Regions from separate parts of the Homo sapiens genome. Here all the other regions are linked to region 2. Evidence: fine-mapped expression QTL. A gene starts in region 2. Each other region holds a variant in brackets. All regions are shown on one strand. Distances are from middle to middle.

The links. PIP is the estimated chance that this variant, and not a neighbour inherited with it, causes the effect.
Region 1: its variant is fine-mapped to the expression of STAMBPL1 in whole blood (TOPMed, PIP above 0.99).
Region 3: its variant is fine-mapped to the expression of STAMBPL1 in whole blood (INTERVAL, PIP above 0.99).

The regions. Positions count from the first base shown.
Region 1 is chr10:88,918,624-88,926,809 of GRCh38, forward strand. It overlaps STAMBPL1 (STAM binding protein like 1), which reads left to right. Exons shown (of 11, transcript NM_020799.4): 9 at 2,660-2,772; 10 at 3,714-3,813; 11 at 4,545-4,864. The coding sequence ends at 4,601. Among named protein-coding and RNA genes, the nearest start is that of ACTA2-AS1, 10 kb to the right of the region's middle. The variant G/T (reference allele first, on the strand shown) is at 4,569.
Region 2 is chr10:88,875,804-88,883,990 of GRCh38, forward strand. It overlaps STAMBPL1 (STAM binding protein like 1), which reads left to right and starts at 4,442. Exons shown (of 11, transcript NM_020799.4): 1 at 4,442-4,835. It overlaps LOC124902551, which reads right to left and starts at 4,861. Exons shown (of 1, transcript XM_047426134.1): 1 at 3,931-4,861. The coding sequence starts at 4,619. The coding sequence ends at 4,092. It also overlaps the pseudogene PTCD2P2. RefSeq lists a silencer at 4,331-4,460 and enhancers at 5,041-5,150, 6,171-7,370.
Region 3 is chr10:88,836,506-88,844,692 of GRCh38, forward strand. The region is part of intron 1 of ANKRD22 (ankyrin repeat domain 22); the gene reads right to left. Among named protein-coding and RNA genes, the nearest start is that of ANKRD22, 11 kb to the right of the region's middle. The variant T/G (reference allele first, on the strand shown) is at 4,138.

The sequences.
Region 1 (8,186 bases), 43 kb after region 2:
GAGTAATATGCATTACACTTTGCCTGGAAATTGCTATATTATTTAGCTTAACATGATTTCTATAAAAAGAATGCCTTATTTAGCGTAACATGATTTCTGTAACAAGAATGCATTTTAAAGCAAAACAAATTCTAGCAAGAATGACAGTCCATTAAATTATGCATTTACACTGACAAGTCAATGTTAGTTTATCTAACAAAACATTTTCCAAATTAGAAACAAAAATTTTCCCCTTATGACCTACCGTGGACATAATGCATGCAATTATGAAGGTAAGTTGTTTAATAAGTTTAGCATAATTCTTGAATTTTAGGACTTTTTGTTAAACTCATTTCACCGTATCAAATTATTGTGGTTGGATGAAAATACAAAAATGTTACATTTCTAAACCTAAGTGATTGTAATGACTTTTTATGACGGTTTTTATTAAGTATAATAATAGCAACAAATTCCAGAGCTGGCTTTTTTCAAATACAAATTAGTCATAGGAATAAAAGGTCTGAAACATAGTCAGACAGACATGTATTTGACTTTAGACATTTTGGTTTAACTAGTTTTATGAGCATCAGCAAGTTACTCACTTTCCTGCTTACCTCAGTTTCCTCATCTGCAAAATGGGGATTATAATAGTACTTATCTTGTTGCTGTGAGAATTCAATGATATGACTCATGAAAAGTGATTAGTTCACATTATACAGTTGCAATAAATGGCATCTGCTGCCATTGTTATCATCATCATCATCATTTTCATTTCTGTAGAGTGAGGGAATGGGAGCCTCATTCTCCCATGGGAAAACTGTCCTAATTGGAATGGACATAATTCCTTTTGGTAGAAATGAAGGACTCAGGTCATGTGGTGTGCATTCTGTGTTCAAATAACTTGACAAGCAGAGTGATTTGTCTGTTTAATAACCTGCTTGCTGCCTCCACAGCACTGTGGTTTCTTTGAACAATTTTTAATTTCTCACGAAGACATAGACGGCTCTATTTTACAAAGAGAAGGTATTCCTTGTAAGATAACAGGCTGTCAGATACTCCCACTCATACCCCCTACTGAAGATTTGCATTTTAAAAGTTAGGATAATTTCCATTCCTTTGTTGATCTAAGTTTTTATATGCCAAGTGTTATTTTTTCCTTGCAGAACATGTACCTTTCTGTAAATCATCATCTGATTTTACCTTCATTCTATTAAAGCCGAAAAAAAACGTTGTCTTGCCTTTTTTTTTTTCAAGACAGGATCTTGCTCTGTTGTCCAGGCTGGAGTGCAGTAGAGTGATCACAGCTCACTGCAGCCTCAACCTCCCTGGCTCAAGCGCTCCTCTCACCTCAGCCCCCTCAAGTAGTTGAGACTACAGGCACATGCCACCATGCCTAGCTAATTAAAAAAACTTTTTTTTTGTTTGTTTTGGAGAGATGGAGTCTACCTATATTGTCCAGGCTGGTCTTGAACTCTTGGGCTCAACTGATCCTCTCACCTTGGCCACCCAAAGTGTTGGGATTACAGGCATGAGCCGGTATGCCTGGCCTAAAAATAGTTTTAAAATCTTACATTTCTTTAATAGAATATAGTTTTGTGTAAAGGCATTTAGCTACTACTATGGCTCTGTGCCTTTTAGTTAATAAATACATTTAATATAACACTAGCAATAACAACAGCTAATGACTTTTATTTCTATGCGCTAAGCACTGTTCCAGGAATTTTAATGGACTGTCCTATTTGATCTTCATAACAATCCCATGCAGAAAATATTATCCCAATTTTACAGATGATGAAATGGGCAAGAGAAGGTTAAGAAATCTTCAGCGTCATATAGCTAGTGAGTAATGGAGTCAGGACCTAGAGAGTGGTGCCAAGAATCTTTGTTTCATGATTAAAATAGTCACATTCTTTTTTCTAAGAGTAATTAGGGTTTAATATGAATTTCTAAAATAACTAGGTGTGCATTTATTTTTTATATTCAAATATGAACCTCCGATTGGCCATGCATAAACACATTTGTATATAGCCAGAAACTTGGCAGATTTCTTGTAATTTATAATCCCCCTTTTTTTCTCCCCATGTATTTAGTTGCTATGCGAGATTAGTCCCAAATACCTTCAACAACTTGGAGTCTCCCATTCTCCCATTTATAGGAAATGACAATCCACAAAAGGATACACAGCAGCATGTGGTCTATTTAGTGAAAACTTTCTTTTAATGTTCATAATGTTGTATATATGTATCTTGTGCCCAGGGTTTCCAATCACAGCTCTGCTCCTTACCAGCCGTGTGACCACAGGCACATTATGTAACCTCCCTTAGTTTTGGGATCCTTGTATGTAAAATTGAGATAATAAAATAAGTATCTCATAAATGAGTTGTGATAATTATATGAGAATCTATTTAAAGCCCCTAGCAAATTAATTTCCAGCTCTTTCTTTCCCAAAAAGAAGAAAGTACACTAACACTTCTAGGAGCCTCTTCTCAGAATTGTAGTTATTCCAAAATAGCAAATAGTTGGCATAAAGGGAAGGATTATGTCAGCAAAACCTTTTTAAAAATCCTTATTTGATTAATGATGGTAAAAACTAAAAAAAAACAGAGTTTTCTATTAAAATAGCCTATGGCCTTGGCTAAGACAGCTATCCTAGTAAGATTATCTTATTTTCTATTTATAGACACATCCCACTCAAACTGCATTTTTATCCAGCGTTGATCTTCACACTCACTGTTCCTATCAACTCATGTTGCCAGAGGCCATTGCCATTGTTTGCTCACCAAAGCATAAAGAGTAAGTGTAACTCTTCAGGGGAGACCAAAGAAGGCTTTGTCCAGGGCTGCTGGGTTCCTGTGTGTCCAGACACCAGGTTGTGGTACTTGGATTGGCAAGCACACAACGCCCTCGGGAAAAAGAGATGGGTAGTAGTCAGCTGCCATAGACCTATAGCTCTGCAGTTTAAGGTCCTTTCAGTGGCAGAATTACTGATTTTCTTTCTTCAGTTAGCGTGACTTTGAAGTGAATAACATTTAAGAAAGATGCTATCCCAGTTAGCCTTTTTAGGACTTATTTCTACTGTATTATGTTCTACCATAAGAAATGTTCTTGCCTTAGCTGAGAAAAAAACCTTTCTAGCTTTGGGGAACAATGATTATTGTAGAGTAGTTATGAGCATGGGAATCAAAAAAACATATTGAAATCCTGGCTCCACCCCTCAAGTGGTGTGTTAGGCAGGATACTTGACCACTGTGGGTCTCTGCCTCTTCATCCCTGATACCTGCCCATCGGGGATGGATGTAAAGATGAAATTAGATAATAGTTTATGTACAGTGCTCAGCATAGTGCCTGGTACCACAGCAGGTACTCAATACATATTTGCTATTGCTATAATCTGTATTAACATAATTAGAAGATTCGAAATATCTGCCACTTGTAATTTCCTCTCATGAGACTCTCTAGTGGGGCTTTGGCCTTTCCTCTGGGGTCACACACGATAGCTTATTTGCCTTGTCCCCTTAACGGTCCTGCAGGCTCTTAGCAGCAGCATTGCCTCCTCCTGGGTTTCTCTCCTCTGGACCAGTCATTGGTTTAAAAAAAAAATCACTATGGAATTCCTAGTTTGTGATTTCTCAATCCCATCTGAGGAATATGTATGTGTGTGCTGTTCAAATAAAGCATCTGGAATGCCCAAATGATCCTTAATTTTTCTATCTTGTTTTTGCTCTGAAATTTAGCACTGGCATCTTCAGGCTCACCAATGCTGGCATGCTTGAGGTTTCTGCTTGTAAAAAAAAGGGCTTTCATCCACACACCAAGGAGCCCAGGCTGTTCAGTGTGAGTACATCATATTAGTTATTTTTCCAGGTATTTCTTGTTCACTGCCCCCCCAATCTGTTTTTAAATAAATAGTAGCAGTCTAATATAAGATAAAATACTGTACTGCTTAGTTTGGAGTTTTATCTCAGAAAATTAATCTATCTGTATACTTAATTTCTGATTTATTCTCAAAATAATTGTATTTACAAGGAAACATCAGTATTTCTGTAGCAGAATTAATGGTGCACAAAGTTACCTTTCCGCTTATGTATATGTATGATATTTAAAAGTTTTCTTCAGAGTCCAAATAAGTAAACAATTATCATAGAAAATGACATTTAAAATGTTGCATGAATTCTTTCTGCTTGATATGGCCAAATTAGTTTTTTCATAGCAATTGATGGAAACTATGATCATACTTCTTGATTACCTTTGCATAGTCCAAAAGAAACATTTGACTACGCCTTTTTTTTTCCTAATTTTCTTGGAGGTTCTGTGGCTATAACATCAGAGAACATTATATTGACGTTAGAATTTACTTAAAATGAAAATTATTTGGCAACCCCTGTAAATATTTTTGTTGTTGTTGAAAATGAATAAATGTGATTGTATTTGTTCTGATTGGAAATATTTTAAAAATCAGGAACAAATTAAAATTAGGAAATCTATACTTCCTCCCTAAAGAAAATCATATGGTAAACATTATGGTGAAATCAAACATATGGTAAAACCAATTTTTTCTTTCCTAGATATGCAAACATGTGTTGGTAAAA[G/T]ACATAAAAATAATTGTGTTGGATCTGAGGTGATATGTTCTGAATGTAAGCACCGTCAACATCAGACACCTACTCATGGACATGTGGTTGCCGGATTTTCTTAAGATGTTTCCAGAAATGACTGATATTTTATATTTATACATTTTAGATGACAAAGCTTGATATTTATTGCTGTTGCACATTTTAAAGTTTTCTTTTTGGGTTGCTCTGTGTCAAGAGAGGTTACATGGTGTTAAATCGGTACCTGATAATGTACCCAAATACTATGGCCAGATAATAAATTGTGCTGCAAACAACATGTCTTGTATTTATAGAGGTCTCTGCATACATTTTTAGAGCTTTAGATGATTTGCTATATTTTTTATTCATGTAAAATGTAATTCCAAATAAGAAATTCTGAGTGTATATAGTCTCCAAAGCAGACCATCTGTTTCTGAAACCTTCCCCTGAGGTAGGTGAACAGCTTCCATGTGTAGATGAAATATGGCTGCCATTGATAAAGCTTGTTCTGTGTTTTCAGTGTCATGAAATCCCAGGCTCAGAGAGATATCTCTGCAGTGAATCATTGTGTAAGATACAAGAACAACACTTCTATTCAGGGATCAGGTGTCAGAGGGCCTGGGATAGCAGACAATTCATTAATTTGATTTAGAAGACTAAAAGTAGAGAAGCTTGAGAGAGGATTTTTTTTTTAAAAAAAGACTCAGATAAAAGTACAAAACCTGTTACTGTGAAAATGAACAGGGGTGATAGGAAGAAGAAATGAGACATAAGAAATAACTGATAATTCTTAGTCAACTTGCTAACTCTGTTAGCAAGTTGAATTGGTAGGAAAAACCTGAGGATGGAAACAGTGTGGAGAAATCTTAGCTGCAGATACACAGAGGGCAGAATGGAAGTGATATTGTTGAGTTATTTGAGAATAGGTCCTTTGGGACACTGAAGACTAGTTCTGCAGGTGAAATCTTTATCTTGGAAGACATTGCTCCCAGGCACATTGGGAAATCCTGGGCTGACAGCCCTTTCCTTGATCGAGAAACTTGTGATCACTTCTTAGTCTCCCTTTTCATCCTTTAGGGCCTTACATTACTCTAGTCTAGCTTTCTTCTTTTTTCTTTTCAACGTTTAAGTTTCCTTCTCCAGCCATCTCTCCCTGGATCTCCACAACTTTTCAACAGGGCCAAACTAATCCTATGAAACCTTCTGTCTTCCCAATGTCTTCTGTGCCAGCCACAGCTCTCCCTGCCTTTGCTTTCCTCATGACATTGTATCTGAGTTGCCTAAACAACTCATGTTTCCATGTACTAGCTTCCACTGCTTAGTTCAATGATTTCCATATTCCAGAGTGGTATTTCCTGTACTCTGTGCTTGGATGGGTTAACATCTGATATGGTTTGGCTGTGTCCCCACCCAAATCTCATCTTAAATCATAGTAGGAGGGACCTGGTGGGAGGTAATTGAATCATTGGGGTGGTTACCTCCATGCTGTTCTCATGATAGTGAGTGAGTTCTCAGGATATCTGATGGTTTCATAGGGGGCTTTTTCCCTTTTGCTCAGCACTTCTTCCTGCCATTATGTGAAGAAGGACGTGTTTTGCTTCCCTTTCCGCAATGATTTTAAGTTTCTTGAGGCCTCCCCAGCAATGCAGAACTGTGAGTCAATTAAACCTCTTTCCTTTAGAAATTGCTCAGCCTTGGTCAGTTCTTTATAGTAGCATGAGAATGGACTAATGCATCAACCCTCCCTGCTTGTCTAGTTCTCAATTCTGGTATCATGTCACCTGAATTCTGTTCCTGTTCTCATTTATACAGAACCACCTACTATGGGCAAGTCAGTGGCTTGTTTCTGTTTCATGGAATCTTCTAGCTATGGAGAGCTCAGGTATCAGACTTCAGAAGTAGAGCTTGGCTTGCCTTGTGCATGGAGACTTTAGTCTATGGCCACCACTAGTTAAGAGCAGATTAACTCTGCAAGGCTGGCTCCATAGACACCTCACTTTTTCCTGAGTGGTGCTGTCCTCAGTGTCTTAACACTTAAACACACCATGATATTCTGATATGCTTGATCAAAGGAAAATGTTATATTCTTTATTCAAGTAAAAATAATTGTTGGGACAATGGATAGTTGAGAAATGAGTGAGATCCTTTGTATAGAATTAAAAATTATAGTAATACACTAAGAGGATGTAAAATGAGAGTTGTCCGATGAAAAAGCTATGGACATTGAATGGTGCCTAAAGATAGAAAGGACTCAGTTGAGGGCCAAGAACATTTAGCATCTTAGATTTCCAGAAAGACTAGAAAGAGAAGCTATGAGTATGCAAAACCATTATGTCCCTTCTGAATAGCAAACTAGAAGAGAACTCATTTTCACTAAGAAAGTATATTGTATTTCCTAAATAAAGGAGACATTCTTGGCACTTTTTTGTAGGTTTTTTTTTTTTTTTTTTTTTTTTTTTTTTTGCCAAGTACAAACCAAATTAACCAGGATCTCACAGAGTGGGACTGTTGGAGGCGGCAAACCAGAGCCTGACTTTGGCTGGCAGAATGAGGCCCTGGGGCTGTGTCTGAAAGAACCAACAGAAATGTGACCACATCACTAAGTAATGGACTGGTCGTGAGGCAGAGACCCTGTTAACCAACCTGGAGACGCCACTACACACACATGTGCATGAGCACCAGTGTTCATTGGATAAACTATCTATGGAAGGTCTCTTTCACAACAGGCAGACAGCACCTTCTCTTTTTTTGAGACAAGGTCTCACACTGTTGCCCAGGCTGGAGTGTAATGGCATAATCATGGGTCACCGCAGCCTTGATCTCGTAGGCTCAAGCGATCCTCCCATCTCAGCCTCCCGAGTAGCTGGGACTACAGGCACTCACCACCACACCTGGCTATTTTTTTTCTATTTTGTAGAAATGAGGTCTTGCTGTGTTGCTAGGGCAGGAGATCCTTCTTTTGAATATGAATCAGTTCCAAAGCTCCATTTGCCACATCCTAAGGCAAAGATGGTTCTTCATTTCTTTTCAGATTTGTGTTTCTGTAGAAAAAAAAGAAACAATTAAGAACTTCCTTTGATTTTCAGTGCTAGTCAGTTTGCACACAGTGCCTGACACCTCATGTGTATTTGTTATAGGCTGAATTGTGTCCCCCAAATTCATGTGTTGAGGTCCTTAACCCCCCAATACCTCAGAATATGACTGAGTTTGGAGATAGGGCCTTTACACAAATAATTAAGTTAAAATGAGGCTAGTAGAGTGGGCACTAATCCAGTATGAGTTGTGTCCTTATAATTAGAGATTAGGACAGACATACACAGAAGGAAGACCATGGGAAAACAGAAAGAAGACTGCCATCTGCAAGCCAAAGAGAGAGAGATCTCAGAAGAAACCATCCCTGCCAAAACCTAGATCTCAGACTTCCAGCCTCCGGAACTGTGAGAAAATAATTTTCTGTTGTTTAAGCCATCTGGTCTGTGGTATTCTGTTTGGCAGCCCTCACAAACTAATGTAGTATCCGGTAAATATTTGCTGAAGTTGTTTGTTTCCTTTTCTCTTACAGACTGAATTGGAAATGGCTTTCTTTGTTGTCATGCAGGGCAGAAATCATTCTTTCCA
Region 2 (8,187 bases):
TGTTTTAATTACTAAATATTTTTTCTTCCAAAATAAAAGGAAAGCATGTCCTTTATAGAAAAATTAAAATTATAGTATAAAGAAGTCAACCATAATTGCCCATAACCAATCTCTAGGAGGCCATTTAAATAATTTCTTCTGGATTTCCTCCTGTATTCTTATCTATTTAAGATTTACCTACTTGAGATATATACGCATGCAATTTTGTGTCGTTTGCTTAACATTGTATCATAAGCAATTTCAACATCATTAAAAGTCCGTCATAAACATAATTTTAATACCCAAAGTTGGTGATAAATATCTCAGTGGAGGAATCTTATTCTTTATTTCAGATTTCCTTAGGATAAATTGCTTCTTAGAAGTGGAATTACTGTAGGAGATGGGAAGAGTACATTTTAGAATGTTCCTTGACACACTGACGAATTCCTTTCCAGCACTGTAACAGAATCACACCACCAGATAAGAGGGCTGATTTCATTGGACCCTCACCAGAAATGAAGAAATGTTTATTGATAAGCAACATTTGTTAATATTACTGGTAAGAGAAAAAAAATCCTATCTTTTAAAAAAGTCTGGAGTTGGTATAGTCTGAGACAGTATGGCTGCGGCATTTTGGTCCTCCAGATGAGCTCTTCTGCCAGCGCTGCAGATTTCAGTGTATCCCGGGATGAGAGGCTCCGGCTCCACCTGCTGCCACTGTCCTCTTGGAGCAAAAAGATATCTACTTACAGATAATATTATGAAATTAAAAGAATTTCAGCATAAGAAGGTGGCTGTTGAATATAATCTTCCTGGCACCAAATAAATCTATTTTAGAAACTTGGAAGAGAAATTGAACTAGAACAAGCTCATCTTGAAGGGGAAGTTGAGAACCCTACTTCATTTGCGTGAGTCCTGGGACCATGTGGAACTGGCTAAAAACATCATTTGCAAGTACCATACAGAAAACAAAAATGTCACTTTGGCGGAATTTAAGTTTGGACCACTTTTCATAAGACTGTGTTACGACTCGAATCTTGAGGAATCTGCAATGGAGCTCAGGAAAGATGAATATTTACAACGGTTCTCAGACTCCACACAATTTACTATTTTGATGGTTATGTTATTTATCAAAAGCAAATATATAAGTGCTTTGGAAATATTGACAGAGATGAAAAACCCAGATGGAAAGTTCACCAGGATACCTATGTTCTTGATTTTGCAATTGGCCACAAAATGAATAGCTCTGAATCTTTCTAAGTCTGTACTACATTAAGAAAAGAAGCCCTAATCAAAGGAGTTCTCTCCAGGAGAGCATCCTGTTTCCTGTGACATCAGAACCAGGTGGCAAAAGCTATGTCCATTTTTTCTCACATCATGAATCCAGAAAGCATAAAGTTTACTAATTTAAACATGATCATCCATATCCAGTCAAATATGTTAGCAACTGTGATGGAGATACTAAAGGGCGTTGCAGAAGGAAATGTATCAAGATTCGTTGAAAGACGTGAGTTCTCAGAGGAACTGCTGGCCAAAGTGAGGAAAAAAGGGAAAGTTGCGCTTGTCTTTGTGGCCAGATTTCATGAGATGTATGGAAAACTGCACATCGTTGTCCAGGTCACCACTTACACTTTGGATGTTCTGCTCTGCGACATCCGTTTAAAAATGTAAGGGACGGGAAATCCCACATGTTGCCATAAAACAACAGGATGGTCACCTGTTAGACCTTCCAGGCACTGGGCCAGTCCCTGTTGGCTGAGTAAACCCTAGTTTCAATCCACCTGTGGGTATGAAGACCTGCTTCCAGTGAGTTATTGGCTTCCCTAAGAAGCAGGCATCGCACTTCAGCAGACACTACAGTGACACTTGATTTCCTCCCTAAAATCACTGAATGGTGGCATGCTGCTCTCTGAGAAGTTATGTCGTGCCACTGTGAAGATCTAGATACAAGCACAGAAAGCTCAGCTCCCTCAGAAAGCAGGCTTCCCCTGTGCACACTACTGAGGATCCGTGAAGGAACATGGTCACTGTCTCCAGTCCAGCTTCCAGTACTGGAGTGGAACCCAGTAGGCACTATCAGGAATGAATTTCACTACAAGTGTGGTCAACTCTGATTTTCAAGGGAGTAATTACTTGCAAATTATACCCTTGCTGAATTCAGGAGGTCCGAAACCCTGTTCTACCATATCAGAAAATAGCCCAGGATTTCCTCACTGCTCTGCCTTCATGTATTCTGTAACTTGAGCCCTCATTTTCTCATCTGCAAAATAATAGTGCTTATGTGTATTTGCATATAGATTTGAAATCTTCATTCAAGGTTTAGTAGGGTAAAATTGTCTCAAAAATAAGAGAAACAAAAGTTCTGGAGCAAAAAGAAATCTGGATTTTAAATTACTATTGAGATTGAATCTTTAAAAATGCAAGTAAAACTATAGGTCACTTAAAAATTCTCTAAGATAAAAGTTGTATAAATACACTGGTGCTTGCTCTTCATTAACTCAATTAATAAAAGGGAAATAAATCACACCTAAAGTTGCTATATCAGAGTTCTTGGTCACAACGCTGAAATCATTTCTGGCTAACTGAATCAGAAGAGAAATATATTGGAAAGTCGTTAAGTAGCATACCAAAGAGACAGGAAGTTTGGCAAATAAGTCTCCTTACACAGGAAGGGAAGCTTAGCAGCTGAAATTACAACAGGTGGGTCATCACACCATTCAAATAGCTCACTTAGGACACCACTGACATTGCCGCAGTGTTACCTCTGGCACTACTGTCCCTGAACACAAAACCCACTTCACAGATAATGGAGACATTTCTAAAATGTTTCTTCTTGAAACACATAATCCAGATTCAAATAACTGTACAGGAGTCTCTGAGGCTGATGTTGGGTCACAAAATGGTACTCTAGCCGCTGGGGAGCAGGGGACGATGGGTATTGGGCCATTTTGGCTTTTATGAGAATTTGGATGCTAGATAGCAAGACCATGATCAATGACCACTCTAAATACGTACGTGGAATTTTTTGTTTCATAATGCTTTTTAGGAATCTGGCTAACCTTCTTAATTACCACTGAATTTTAAATTGTCCAGTAGGTCATGAGATTATCTGGTTCAATACTGCAAACTCAAATGCCTACCATATTCTCAAATGTCAGTGAGGTGGGGGTGTATGGGAGTGGTGGGGACTGTGGAAAACTGAAGAGTGTCTTCACAGTCTAAAGGCGACACCTGCTATTCAGCTTCAGCTGATGGTTGCTAGAACTCGCCATGGACCAAATGTCTGATGTTACGATTTTACAGAAAATGTGAAAAGTCTGAATTTCTGTGAAATTTCCTAACTTCAACATTTGGAACCAACTTAAAACTAAGCAAAACAACACTGTTGCTTCTTAAAAATCAAGGCTGCAGGCTGCCTCCAACAATCAAACTCTTCATTTAAAAAAAAAAAAAGAATCCAGGGAGATGAGGCTTAAGAAGGTGAAATGCTTGAGACCAAATAACTCAGTTGGTGGCTGAGCCAGGGCTAGAATTTTGGTTTCCAGAGGAAAGGCTAACTAAGAAAAGCCAGTGTTTCCCCACCCCACTCTGCAGCCATTTCTCTCACTTGGAAGTAAGCTCCCAACCAAGCTCAAGAAAAGCGACTCTATTTCATCCAGCAGCAGCAGTCTCCATAAAATGTTTATCAGTTAATAGAACCTGTGAAGCCAATAGAAACAGCTTTCAGTGTTGGATCAGAGTTTAAATTTCAGCTTCTACTGCTTTCTAGGTGAGTAACCTGGGATAAATTATTTTACTTCTCTGTCTCTCGTTCATGGAAAAAACAAAAACAAAAACAAAAAATGAGTCCCTTTTATATACAGGGTTGTGGCAGATGGACTAAGATTTTGTGTACCGACTGCCTGACACAGTGCCAGAACTGTAGTAAGAACACCACACGTGATAGTAACATAACATCCAGGAGATATTCTAATACTTCTTATTTTCCAAGTACACACAAATTGGGGGTAGGGGGAAGGGCTAAGATGCTTAATAGTGGGCGTAGCCAGTTGTGGATAAATATCAAAAAGGGAATCCTAACATGAAGTATAAGTGGGATTTTCACCAAAACCCTATCCTTCCCCAGACTCCAGTGACAGTTTAACGGTCAGCTGCATCAAGGCTTGTGTACTGTGCAGTCTTAAAAGGCACCACTCCTGTCCATCTCGGTGAAATTGATGGTGGAGCAAAAGGGAGTTTAGGTGGTTCCGGTCTGGGGAGAAGACGTGCAGGGTTTCAGATGCGAAAGTCGCACCCAACCGCTTCACTCGGGCTCTAGGCCATCCGCAGGGGCCCTGCTTCCTTCCACCTGCGAGCTTTTTCTGCAGAATGCGGGAAGCCGCCGCCGCCGCCACAGAGGAGGGGGCGGAGGCAGAGGCGGAGGCGGCACCCAGGGGCCGGGGCAGGGGAGGCCGGGACCATCGCAGTGACAATTTATTTTCCTGCAGCAGCGGCAGCAGGGACGGTTGCTGCAGGTTCGGGGTCGGCCGGCCTGCGCGTGGGCTTGCGAGGACGCTGTTCGTCCCCTGCGCTGGGGTGTCCGACAGCGAGGAGGAGAACGACGCACGGAGCCCGCGCGACTGGAACCAGCAAAGCTCCATCTGTCGGCAGAGGAGAAGGGGGAGGAGGCACGGCCGAGGCAAACGAGCGGACGCCTCGTCGCCGGGTGCCGGTATCACCCCGCTGCAACGCCTTCCAGCAAAAGCCACCGCGGCCCGGGTTGCAGCAGCCGGACGGATGCCAAGGCCACACGGCAGCCACGGGGGCAGCCGTCGCAGTCGCCGTCCCACACGGGCTGCGGACACCAAGGGTTGCTAGTGAGTAGCGGCGCGCGCGCGTGAGTGAGAGCGCGCACCGGACGGGGAAGTGCGCACGGCGGGTGCGTCTGCCTCGTGGCCTGGCGCGCGCCGGCCCTTCCGCTGGCAGCGTCCGGTCCCGGGCTGGCTCTAGGGGAGGAAAAAATGCACTTTGGCGGCTGATCGCTTCCTTCCTGCCAGTCATGCAATCGGCCGCCTCCATCGGCGCCGCCTGTATGCGCCCCTCCGCTGGGCCCTCTGGGTTAGTTTCACCTTGATAGGGAGGCAGGAAGACCTGGCTGCTGGTGGCAGGGCGGGACTCTGGCCGTGACCTATACGTGGGTGCGCCTGTTTTTTTGGTTCAGCCCTGGGTTGCAGCCTTGGAGATGATGTCGACCTTGGGAGAGACCACTGCACTGTCTCTAGCGGCGCGGTGTGGAGGAGGGAGGGGCGAGGGTTAGAAAAACGGACCTTTACCCCGGCCGAGCAGGTGCCATGCCTTTCCAGATGATGTTACTTTTATGCCCTTTATGAGCGACTAAGACATTGCCCCTCACCTGAATAACTTAAAGCTTTCGCTGAAAGCCCCCAGTGAGATGCACAAAGAAATGGAATGTCTCCAAAACATATTTTTTTCAGAACTTTCTCTAAAACAACCCACGCTGCTGATACCCCCAGAGCCTAAGGTGCCATAATTGCTGAAGTTTAAAAGAAAATTTATGTAAGGAATAAGTAATTCAGGAAACGGAACCCAATCTAGAGGTTTGAAAAAAAAAATCAAGTGCCTGGGAAGTGGGGTGGGGTGGCTTGCTTCCTGGAAATCAGTGTTCGGTAGTAAGTAAAAAAGACAGCTTTCAAAGTAAGCCCCAGTGAGCACACTGCTTTCCAAACATCTTGCTCATTACTGACAATAACATGAAGTCCTGGATTTTAAGCTATTTCCGAAGACATAATAGATATCACTAGGATGCTTGTTTATGGTCTCATGATTTAAGGCCCTGTCAAGGTCAATAACGTAGATTTGTTCCAGCAGATAAATTATACCTGAATGTTTGATTGTTCGTGTCAATTTTTTTGAGGGTAGGTTTTGACGGTTGTTTTACACAGAAATTAAGCCACCGTGTTTTGTTTTTATCCCGACCTTGTTTCCATTGGAAATTTTGTGTTTTCAGGATGGATGCTACATTGCACTTCAAAAATATACTCTGCCACTGGATTGTAGTGGGCATTGTGTAGCTACACTATACATATCTTTATTTTTAATACAAGTTAATGTGTCGCTGAGCAGTAGGCTCTTTTTGTTTACCATTTGCACCATGAGAGCTTCTCCATTCAAAGGCATAAAATGTTATTGGAATCTACCTGCAAAATGAATTGGCTGATTGTTTTCTGTTCAGACACAGATACAGCAAATTGCCACTAAGAATCTGCTTTTGCGTATACGTTGGCTGTAATTTATGTAGCAACTGGTTCTTGGGAATTTCAAGAAGAAACTTGTTTTCTTATCCTCACCTATAAAGTAAGCACCAAAATTTAAATTATAAGGCAGATAACCTAAGTCCTTTACCTCTATCTCAACCTTCAAGGCCTGTTTCTTGGTACTCTTGCCCTGTTTCATAGGATTCTTACGGTTTGTGGGAGGCTTGGAGGGAGTAGTGAGGAACCAGTTTCCTGAGGATGTCCTCAATAGAGAGATTTGCTTCTGGAGGAGAGAGTGTCTTTGGGGTTGATTCCTAAGAAGGACTGATAAAAATAGTTATAAAGAATTGTTAGTAATAGTTCTCTCTTCTTACTTTCAGCACATAGGACTTAATTAACACCGTTTGATCATTTCCTTCCTTTAGGACCCTTCCCAGCTGTAAGAATTTACAGCTACAATCCAAGAAATGAGATTGCATTTTACAAGAAAAGAAAACTGATGATTCTTGCCCAAAACATGAGAAGTAGAAGGAATGTGAGAGAAAATAATGTAGATTCCGTCCAGGAAGTGCTAGGTGCTTTCCTGGTGGGTACATTTACAAATTAGGGACATTTTAATTAATCTACTGGATTTGTGATTCTGTCTGCTACTATCTTCTTTTTCTTGACCTTATGAAAGATTTATAGATGGCTTCAACTGAAACTACAGGAAATGACTCATGGTTATCCCTGAAGATATTAGAGCCAGATTTCCATTCCTTAGGGCTGATGCATAGCAGCTCTTTGATAAATATTTGCTAAATAAATGACAAATTTTAGAATGTCTTTTTATTATTATTGTACTTTAACTTCTAGGGTACATGTGCACAACTTGCAGGTTTGTTACATATGTATACATGTGCCATGTTGGTGTGCTGCACCCATTAACTCGTCATTTACATTAGGTATATCTCGTAATGCTATCTCTCCCCCCTCCCCCCACCCCACGACAGGCCCGAGTGTGTGATGTTCCCCTTCCTGTGTCCAAGTGTTCTTATTGTTCAATTCCCACCTATGAGTGAGAACATGCGGTGTTTGGTTTTTTGCCCTTGCGATAGTTTGCTGAGAATGATGGTTTCCAGCTTCATCCGTGTCCCTACAGAGGACATGAACTCATCCTTTTTTACTACATCACCTCTTCTGCTATTTTTTAAATCATAACTTTATATGAATCACCAAACATTTCATCAAATTGAATCCCAGTTCATATAATCAACTAAGAAGGCCAACATCCTCGATTGAAGAAACAGTAACAAAATCAAAACAAAACAAAAACAAAACTCTAAAACAAAACTAAAACCAACAAAAAATACTATTGGTACCTGTTGACTTGCTTATTCCACCTATCTGAACATGTGAACTGTCCAATTGAACGTGTGAATGTACATTCAGAAATCCTGAGTTGACATCAGAATGTTCAACTCAGGAATAATCTGGATGTAGCTACATCTGGATGTGGCTTTTGTCAGAAATTATTTGCATTTCTAAGCAAATCAGATTAACGTCTAGTACAATCTTCCATCTCTGCATGTCAAGTGGACAGGCCAATTTAACATTTGGCATACTGCTGAGTCTTCAAAACACATATTGTTTGATGCTCTAACTTTTAAATTAAATCTGTGTTATTTTTTTCCATTGATGTGGTTGGCTTAGAGACATTAATTTGACTGGTGGTTGCTTAGTAACTTGTGTTTATTAAAAGAAGTCCCTTGATATAAACACCAGTAATTCTTATGTCTTGATTTGCTGTAGTTAACCTTTCAAGGTACTCTTTTGGAAATGGGTGCATTGTCTTGAATATTAAGGATGTTATGACTCCTTTTTTTTTGTTTTTGTTTTAGTTCTGACTTTCCATCTCCTGTCATTAGAAAGTCTCCCAGTTATTCAGGTTCCACTTTCAGGATGACAGATTAGA
Region 3 (8,187 bases), 39 kb before region 2:
CAAAGTGACATAGTTCACAACTGGCATGGCCAAGAGTCAAATCAAGGGGAATGACTGCAGAATGCGTACATTCTATCTCCAATCACTTTAGTCTTAAAAATCAGCCTTCAAAATGTCTTCTGGCTACAAGACTTCGCATTTGATATTTGTGTCCAAAATTAAGCTACAGTCTGTATTCGGGATATTGATCTGTCCACTTGTGGCACTGACTTGCTGGTTATACTGGTTATACATCCAGACTCCTTCTCCAACCTGACCTAGAATCAGCAATATCCACCAAGAGATAAGAAGTGTCATCAGAGAGTCTGCAGAAGAAACAGAAAAACGTTAAGACTCAAAGGCAAAGAAGTGAAAGTTTCAAGAAGGAAGACAAAGATCATTGAATGTGATCATTAGCAGCCATGCAGAGGCCAATTTTCATACAGTGATGGGGCTGAAGGAAGAATACAGAGGCCTGAGCACATTGTCTATGAAGAATTAGAGGATGCAATTGGAGAGGAATTGTAGTCAGTTTGGCAGTGAAAAAGCTGTTAGGGAAAGCTAGAGACTTCAAAGAGGGGGGTAGCAGTGTCCAGCCAACGTTCCACACGTTTGTAGGCAAAGTGGTGTCATCAAGTGGTTACAAATCCAGGCTCTGGAAACAAACTCTCTGGGTTCCAATCTCAACTCTGCGACTTAACAGCTATGTTATTTGGACAAGTTACCTAGACTCTTCATGCTAAGTTTCCTTCTGCTTTTGATAATCATGCCTTCTTTATAAGTTTCAGAAAGAATTAAATGTAACTGTGCAGATGAAGCACTTAGCTCAGATCTGAGTCACAGTAAACCCTCAATTAATGTTAGCTACTCTTATAATTATTAAAGCATAAGGAGCCAATGAAGATGGACAGGAGTGGTTATGAGAGGGTAGATAATTGATCAAAGAGAGTGAAGAGATGATAGGATAGAGAGCATTAAGATGGAAACATTAGTCTCCTACATAGAAGGAAAATTCTGGCTCTAAGGCCAAAGCAAGGGAGAAAAGAGAGCTACATGGATGGAAAGAAGTTTAGACTGACTGAAATTTTTGCCAGAAAGTCAGAGGTTTGATCTTCATTCATTATACTACTATATATTTGTCATAAATAAATAGATACATCTAGATAACTAATATGGTTTGGCTGTGTCTCCACCCAAATCTCATCTTGAATTGTAGCTCCTATAATTCCCACATGTCATGGGAGGGACCCAGTGGGAAGTAATTGAATCATAGGGGTGGGTCTTTCCCATGCTGTTCTCATGATAGTGAATAAGTCTCACTAGATCTGATAGTTTTATACAGGGGAGTTCCCCTACACAAGCTCTCTTTTGCCAGCTGCCATGATTGACTTTGCTCCTCATTTGCCTTTTGCCAGATTGTGAGGCCTTCTCAGCCATGAGGAATTGTGAGTCAATTAAACTTCTTCCTTTATAAATTACCCAGTCTTGGGTATATCTTTATTAGCAGCATGAGAACAGACTAATCCAATAACTAAATAAATAGCATTGACATTTAAAAAGATGAATGGATTAATGACAGGAGATGTGATTGAGACAAGGGTAGATGAGACTTTTGAGCATGATGGGGAAGATTTTGGACCATCGTAATTAAAACTGTCTACATGAAATGAATAAAAATATAAAATGGCTTTGAAAACCAGGTTGTAGAAACACAGTAAGAAGATAGAGTTGACTGAGCCTGCCATGTGAGTTTGTGATTTTCTTCAGCAAACCTAGATGAGGGAAGAGTACAGAAAGTGAAGAGGGCAAGAGCAAGGATTAGGAAACATGTCTGTCAGGCAAGAGAAATGAGAGGAGAGTGGTTTACCATTAAATTCAGTCTTAATGGGCATCATATGTAAGCCAGATAAAGACAAATGAACTTGCAAAAAGAGAGAGACAAGCAAATAGAAACACAGAGAAGGATCAGAGCACAGTTCGTACATGTGGTCTATTAGAAAAGTAACCAGTTTAGAAGTTATCAGAGAGATGTTACAGATAAACTCTGTCTAGGGATGAGAAGTCAAGGGTGGCCTTGTTGGGTATCTGATTTGGAGTAGAAACACAGGTCAAGAAGGGAGAATGAAGCTTATGGATGTTGAGGTCACTGAGGATGACCCCGGGGGACAGAAAGAAAGGGGAACTTGTGTTCCAGGGAGGTGGAAGTGGGCCCTGGAATACAGTGGACAGAAGGGAGAATGTAGAGAAAGGGCCATAAGCAGAGATTTCAAGTAAGAAATTGAACCATGGTCAAAAAACAACGGTGACCAAGAAGTAGACTGAATCAGCAGCCACCATAAGAGAAGGTGTCATAATGCCCAGGAAAAGCCAGATTTCAGTGAAGGCACAGAGGAAAACAGACTAGTAGGCGAGGAGGAGATTGAAGAGAAGGAGTATTTACCAGCAGGGTGCATGAGTTCCCATGGGCTAACCTGTGAACAGCGCTCCCTAGAGCCGTGCTCTGGACAACCTGAAAAGCTAAGACACAGGATTGATAGGGCCCACTGACTAACTTTTCTCTTCAGCCTCATCTATCAATCTCCCTTTTGCTCACAACTTTGTGGTGATTTCTGGGGCATTCCAGGTTCATTTCTGTCTTCTGGCCTTTACACTTGCATGTGACCTATATGGCGGGCTTCCTGCTAGGCCAGATCAAGTATCAGCCCATGAATCACCTCCTCAGAGAGGACTTCCCTGACCACTCAGCCTCCCAGCCCAGGAACTTTCTCTCTCTCACATAATCTTGTTTTATCTTTTTAAATTGCACTAATTGGTATTGAAATGGGGTGTAATGTGCCCAAGTTCCTAGAAAGTGAGGTATCTATGACTTTTACCTGGTTTTTAAAGTGCCCCTCAGTGGGCCAACTGTGTATAAACCACTGCTGTTCTGCAAGCTCTCCCATCTCTGGTCAGGTCAATTTCCTCACTTCTATGTTTGGGCTACTGGCTTGCCATCCTTATCTTTTAAATTGTGCTATCTATTCTTCAAGGCCCATCTCATGGTTCATCTCCAAGAAATCTCTTTCATCTTTCCTACCTGCAGCAGGAAATATACAGAACCTCAAGCAGCTCATTGGCCTTAAATGAGCTAGTGGGTTAAATGTAGTCTCCTTAACTAGACTGTAACCCTCCTGAAGTTAGGCTTCCATAAGGTCAAGCACCCAGAACATGGATAAAAGTCATTTGTTGGTTGACACATGGATTCATCCGATCTGGCTGGGAAGTGAGGCTAGGAAAGGGGTTGATGTTTAGAAGGTAATCGATCATGTAAGGACCAGGACAATATTTCGCCTCAGTGGTTCTCAACCTTGGCTAAATATTGCAATCATGTTTGCACCAACTTAATGTTTAAAACACGACCCAGGCCCCACTATTGACCAGTTAAATAAGAATCTGTAAGAATAGGATTGGGGCATTAGTGCTCTTTAAATTTCCCTGGTGATTCTGATGCACAGTGAGGGTTGAGAATCTCTGCAAAGGTAAAAGAAACAAGCCCCCCATAATGGAAGTAAAAATTTAATGTAACATTGCAGCTTTTAAACTCACATTAGCTAAGGAGCATTCAAAACTCTGGAATAATGGAACATTAGGAAAAATTTTTTGTGTCCTTTTGCCTTCCCACATGTTTGTCTTTAAAAGGAGTCAAGAATTTGGAGGTAAGGTTTCACTCTGTTCACTTCCATCTTACTTGCCCAGGCACTAAAATTTAAGAAGCGTCCATGGGTAGAATATGACGCATCCGGTATGTTGATGATTAACTAAAATAATCAGCATGTTGATGATTAACTGTATGTATTACTTAATAATATTTTGCACTGCTCTAAGTACAATAGATATCACAGCTGAAAAAATATTTGTTGTTATTTTAATAGTGTAGAAACATCTGAACAACTTGTACCACTATGGATGTCTTTAAAAGCAAAGCTTCCCCCAAATTACCCCCACTTTTTAGTGTTGTTTTCCCTAAAGTATAATGGAGCTTCTGTAATTCCCAATCTAAGGAAAGACTGTGTAGAACTTTGCCTGTGGCTCAGAGGAATTGGTTCACTGTTTATTAGCCATCTCCATGCTACAAGCTCCCCTCACTTAAAATGTTCCATGAAAACTTCTGAGAAGGAT[T/G]TGTAGGTTTTGGAGCAAAATGATTCCGGTAAAGAGCCTTGTGATTCACGAAATGTCTTCTCAGAAAAGGAAGGAAGATGTTTTTCTTTCTCTTCAAGTTAAGAAACCTTGGAGAATGATAATAAAAACCTATTGGGTTTAATTTGATTTCTACAATTAATCCCAAGCCTTTGTTTCTGATAACTCACTCTTCACATACTGTATTTTATAAATTCCTTAGGAAATGTCTTCTTTCAGACAAATAAAAAAGTCGCAATAATTTTTTAAAGGCTGTTCTAGGCCCACTCCGTCTCTGTGTAACATGGAGGAAGGTCCCACCACTGGCTGGAACGTGTAGAGAAGTCATAGTTCCTCATGAACGATAGCAGAAGGGGAAATAGAAGCAGGGCACATATTGATCTATGTTTTCTACTCTTTATCCTGAAAGGTCTGTTTGAGAACATGAAGTTATGTTCCTTGCCAGGAAGCTAAAAAAACCCCATTGCCACACTTCTGACTCCAGGACATCAGAAACTCTGAGGTCATGAGGACCAGGGGAAAGCAGAAGATCCTTCACCTCCAGCGAGGAGTAAGGGTGGAGGAAGAGTGGGTTCTGGCTGCTAGAAAATGGCAAATCAGAAGCCCTGATATTCCCCTACTACCTCAGACCACCACAGAGGTATTCACAGAGAAGAGAGAAGGCAGTAGGGTGCCCATAACTAGGTAACATCCAGTTCTACAAAAGGAGGGAGTAAGAGAAAAAAAAAGAAAGAAAGAAAACCTTTGTGGTCTTCTTCCATTTCATTGGTGTAACCACTCCCACCTGGCTAGTTTCAACCTACAAAAGAGAGAGCAACGAACTCAGAGTTGAGCAAAATTGGCTTTCACAAACCAGTTCAAGCTGACTCAAGCCAGCTCCAGCCTGCTCCAATACACCAGCAACAGGAACTGGCATATATTTCCGTTAAAGTAAGTTATAATGGAGACCAGGCTTGAAGAATCTCTGGGCCAGACAAATCCATTTAGACCTCATAAGTGACCTTAACCTTGCTCAATTTGCAAACATAAGCAAAACTTAACTTCAGCTATTTCTTATAAATCCCTATATTAAAGAAAAATGAAACCAAGTTAACTAATCAGAAGCCTAACTTACATAGAGACTTTCCAGCAGAATCGACCAAATAAAGCAACTCTATAACTGCAACCAATCAAATATTTTCTGTGCTTTACTCCCTTTTTCACCCTATAAAAGCCTTCTCCTTGCATTCCCTCCAAAAAGCCTGCAAACCACAGCTGTCCAATTCCTGAATCGGTATTTGCTCAAATAAATTCTTTTGAGCTTAACCGTGCCTCATTTTACCTTTTGACATCCCAAGACTTTTCTACACTGTCTTATTCTTAACGTAGAAGACAGTTTGGCTGGGGAAGGGCCCAGGATTTGAACTCTCAGCAGCCAATGTCTCTAAACATTTAATGGACCTAAACAGGTATTTTAGCACTAAATCTCTAAATGTAAGTCTCCTTTGGGAAAAATAAAAAATAACAGTAAAAAGTTTCACAGTAATAATACCTACTATATACTGAACTCTTTTTATATACCATCTGTAATGCTAAGCACCTTAGCAGCATCTCATTTAACCCTTACAGCAATCTTAGAACAAAAATAATATTATCCCTCTTTACAGATGAGAAAACAGGCTCAGAGCTCTTTATAGCTAGTGAGTAGCATAACTAGAATTTATACTCTGGTCTATCTAACTCCAGAACCAGTGTTTTAACCCATTAAGCCTCTCTCCACTCCTATGCAACTCCATGCACTAATTTATAATAAACTCTACCCACAAAAGTTCCAGGAGTGCCTATAGTCCTTGATTATTTTCTTCAATTCAATTCAACAGACTTTGAGATCTCAATACTTTCCAAGAGAACTGTGCTAGGCTCTAGGGATACAGAGATGATGAAAACCCAGTAGATACTCACAAGAGGTACATAATAGCATTCATCACATTCTGTATCATGTTATACGACAAACCTTCCCAAGCATCTGCAGAGTTAACAAAATTACTAAAATCCCCTTAAATTCAGTTAAAGAATTTGGATTAGAGGACTAGCATGTAAGTGAACCTATAAAAACAACTATAAATGTTTCACATACTTGGAAAAATAATGACAGGAAAAAAATATCAGTAACATTTCACACATTGTAATGTGGTAATAATAGACATAGTGTTATGAATTGTTACTTGCCAATTCTTGCTTACAGGAAATTTTATAGGTCTACTGTGATTTGCAGTTTCAATAATATATTTGCAAATAGTTTTTACTCCATTTTGGATCATACTAATACTGAAGACAATTATTTTTTTCCTCTCTGGTCCTTCATTCAAATGTATGATGACTTTCTGATTTTATGTCCCAGAAATTACCACTACTTCCCAGGTAGGGGCTGACTTCCATTAGCGTGCAGCTCTGAAGCCACTGTTTCTTGACCTCATCTTCATTTACTTTTCTCAAGGAAGGCTTCTCTATAAAAGCTTCTTCTCTTGCCTGCCATCTACTTCACCTCCTTTTCCTAAAATCAACTCTTACCTCCAATTCCTTGTGTCTTGAATATTCTGTGGCGGAAGAAATTCTCATTCACATATATAGAAACGGGAAGTCCTGAGGTTGCTGAAAGACCTCATCCCACCTTGTTTTAAGCATAATATGATCTTGATACCTGCCAAAGGTCAACTGTTGGTAAAGCCACAAAACCATAGTGCTAAAATCCCCTTTCAAATCCTCATCACGCCTAATCTTAAGCATGTTGGGAGAAAACGTTGCCTTTGCAGAAATGCTTGCTTGATTCTGAAGATTCATGTGGTCTGATGGTGCATCAAGGCAATTAGCATCTTTTTCATTTTTCAAAATTGTTTACTTTAGTGGCACCAATTAGCTAAAAAAGGGTGTGGACTTTAGGGTTCCAGGATTAGTTGTATTATTTCAGTGTAACAAGTAAGTTTTTGGTTATTACTATAAAGTCCAATTAAAATAAATTTGACCATTAAAGGCAGGAAAGTTGAGTTGTGGCAAATTAGAAATCAACTAACATCAAGAATTTCCCACAAGGGATTTCATTGGGAGAATTATTTGTGTCTGGCCTTATGACTGCAGTAAATTCTTTGGAGAAAACAAATGTTTTATTCTTACATTCTTGTAACTCTCACATAACCTACTATATTATTTTCTACAAGATAGACACATGTTTATTAAACCGACATTTAGGTCAGGGAAGCTATCATTATACCTTTCTCTTCGGCAACCTGCAAACTGGGAATCATAAAAATCATAACACATAGGACTCTCAAATCCACTTTCATCTAACAAACCCGACATTTTTAAAAATTATAATACTTCAGTAAAGCACAGTAAGAGAATACATAAAGAATGACAAAGCCACTCTTTTAGATCTCTTGAAGGTGAGATTCAAGCAGAGATCCATGATCTGTCTTAAGTGAAGGAATGAGCCAGGTAACTTTCAGGAGGAAGAAACTTCCAGACAAAGGGAATCCAACTGTCAAGCCCTTTGAGACAAGAGCTCGATTTGATGTGTTCTAGGAATAGCAGGAAGGTCAGCATGGCTGCATGAGCAAGGGGAGTGGCGGGAAATTTGGGAAGCAAATGGGACCAAGGAAAATTGGGTCTCGTAGACCATGGTTAGGACTTTGAATTTTATTTTATGTTTGATGGGAAATGTTAGCAGAGTTTTGACAAAATCTACCTTCAGTTTAGAAAGTTAGTGTTAAGACTTCCCAGTTAATTAGTATGTAAACCATTTTGTTGTATTAAATAGTACTTTATGGGTTTCCAAATAGTAAACGCCTCCCATTCTCATCTCTTTTTCAGTTTTCCAAAAAAGGTATTTCTAATCTTAATAACTTTAAGATTAGGGGAGCTATGTATCAAGAGCTGTTTCTATAACATAAGTAAACATTACAGATTTTTAATTAAAGTAATTATTGTTTAGAATCTAAGGAATCTTTATGGTTAAAAGTAAAAGATCCCTTTTATGCCTTCTTATCTCATCTCAGA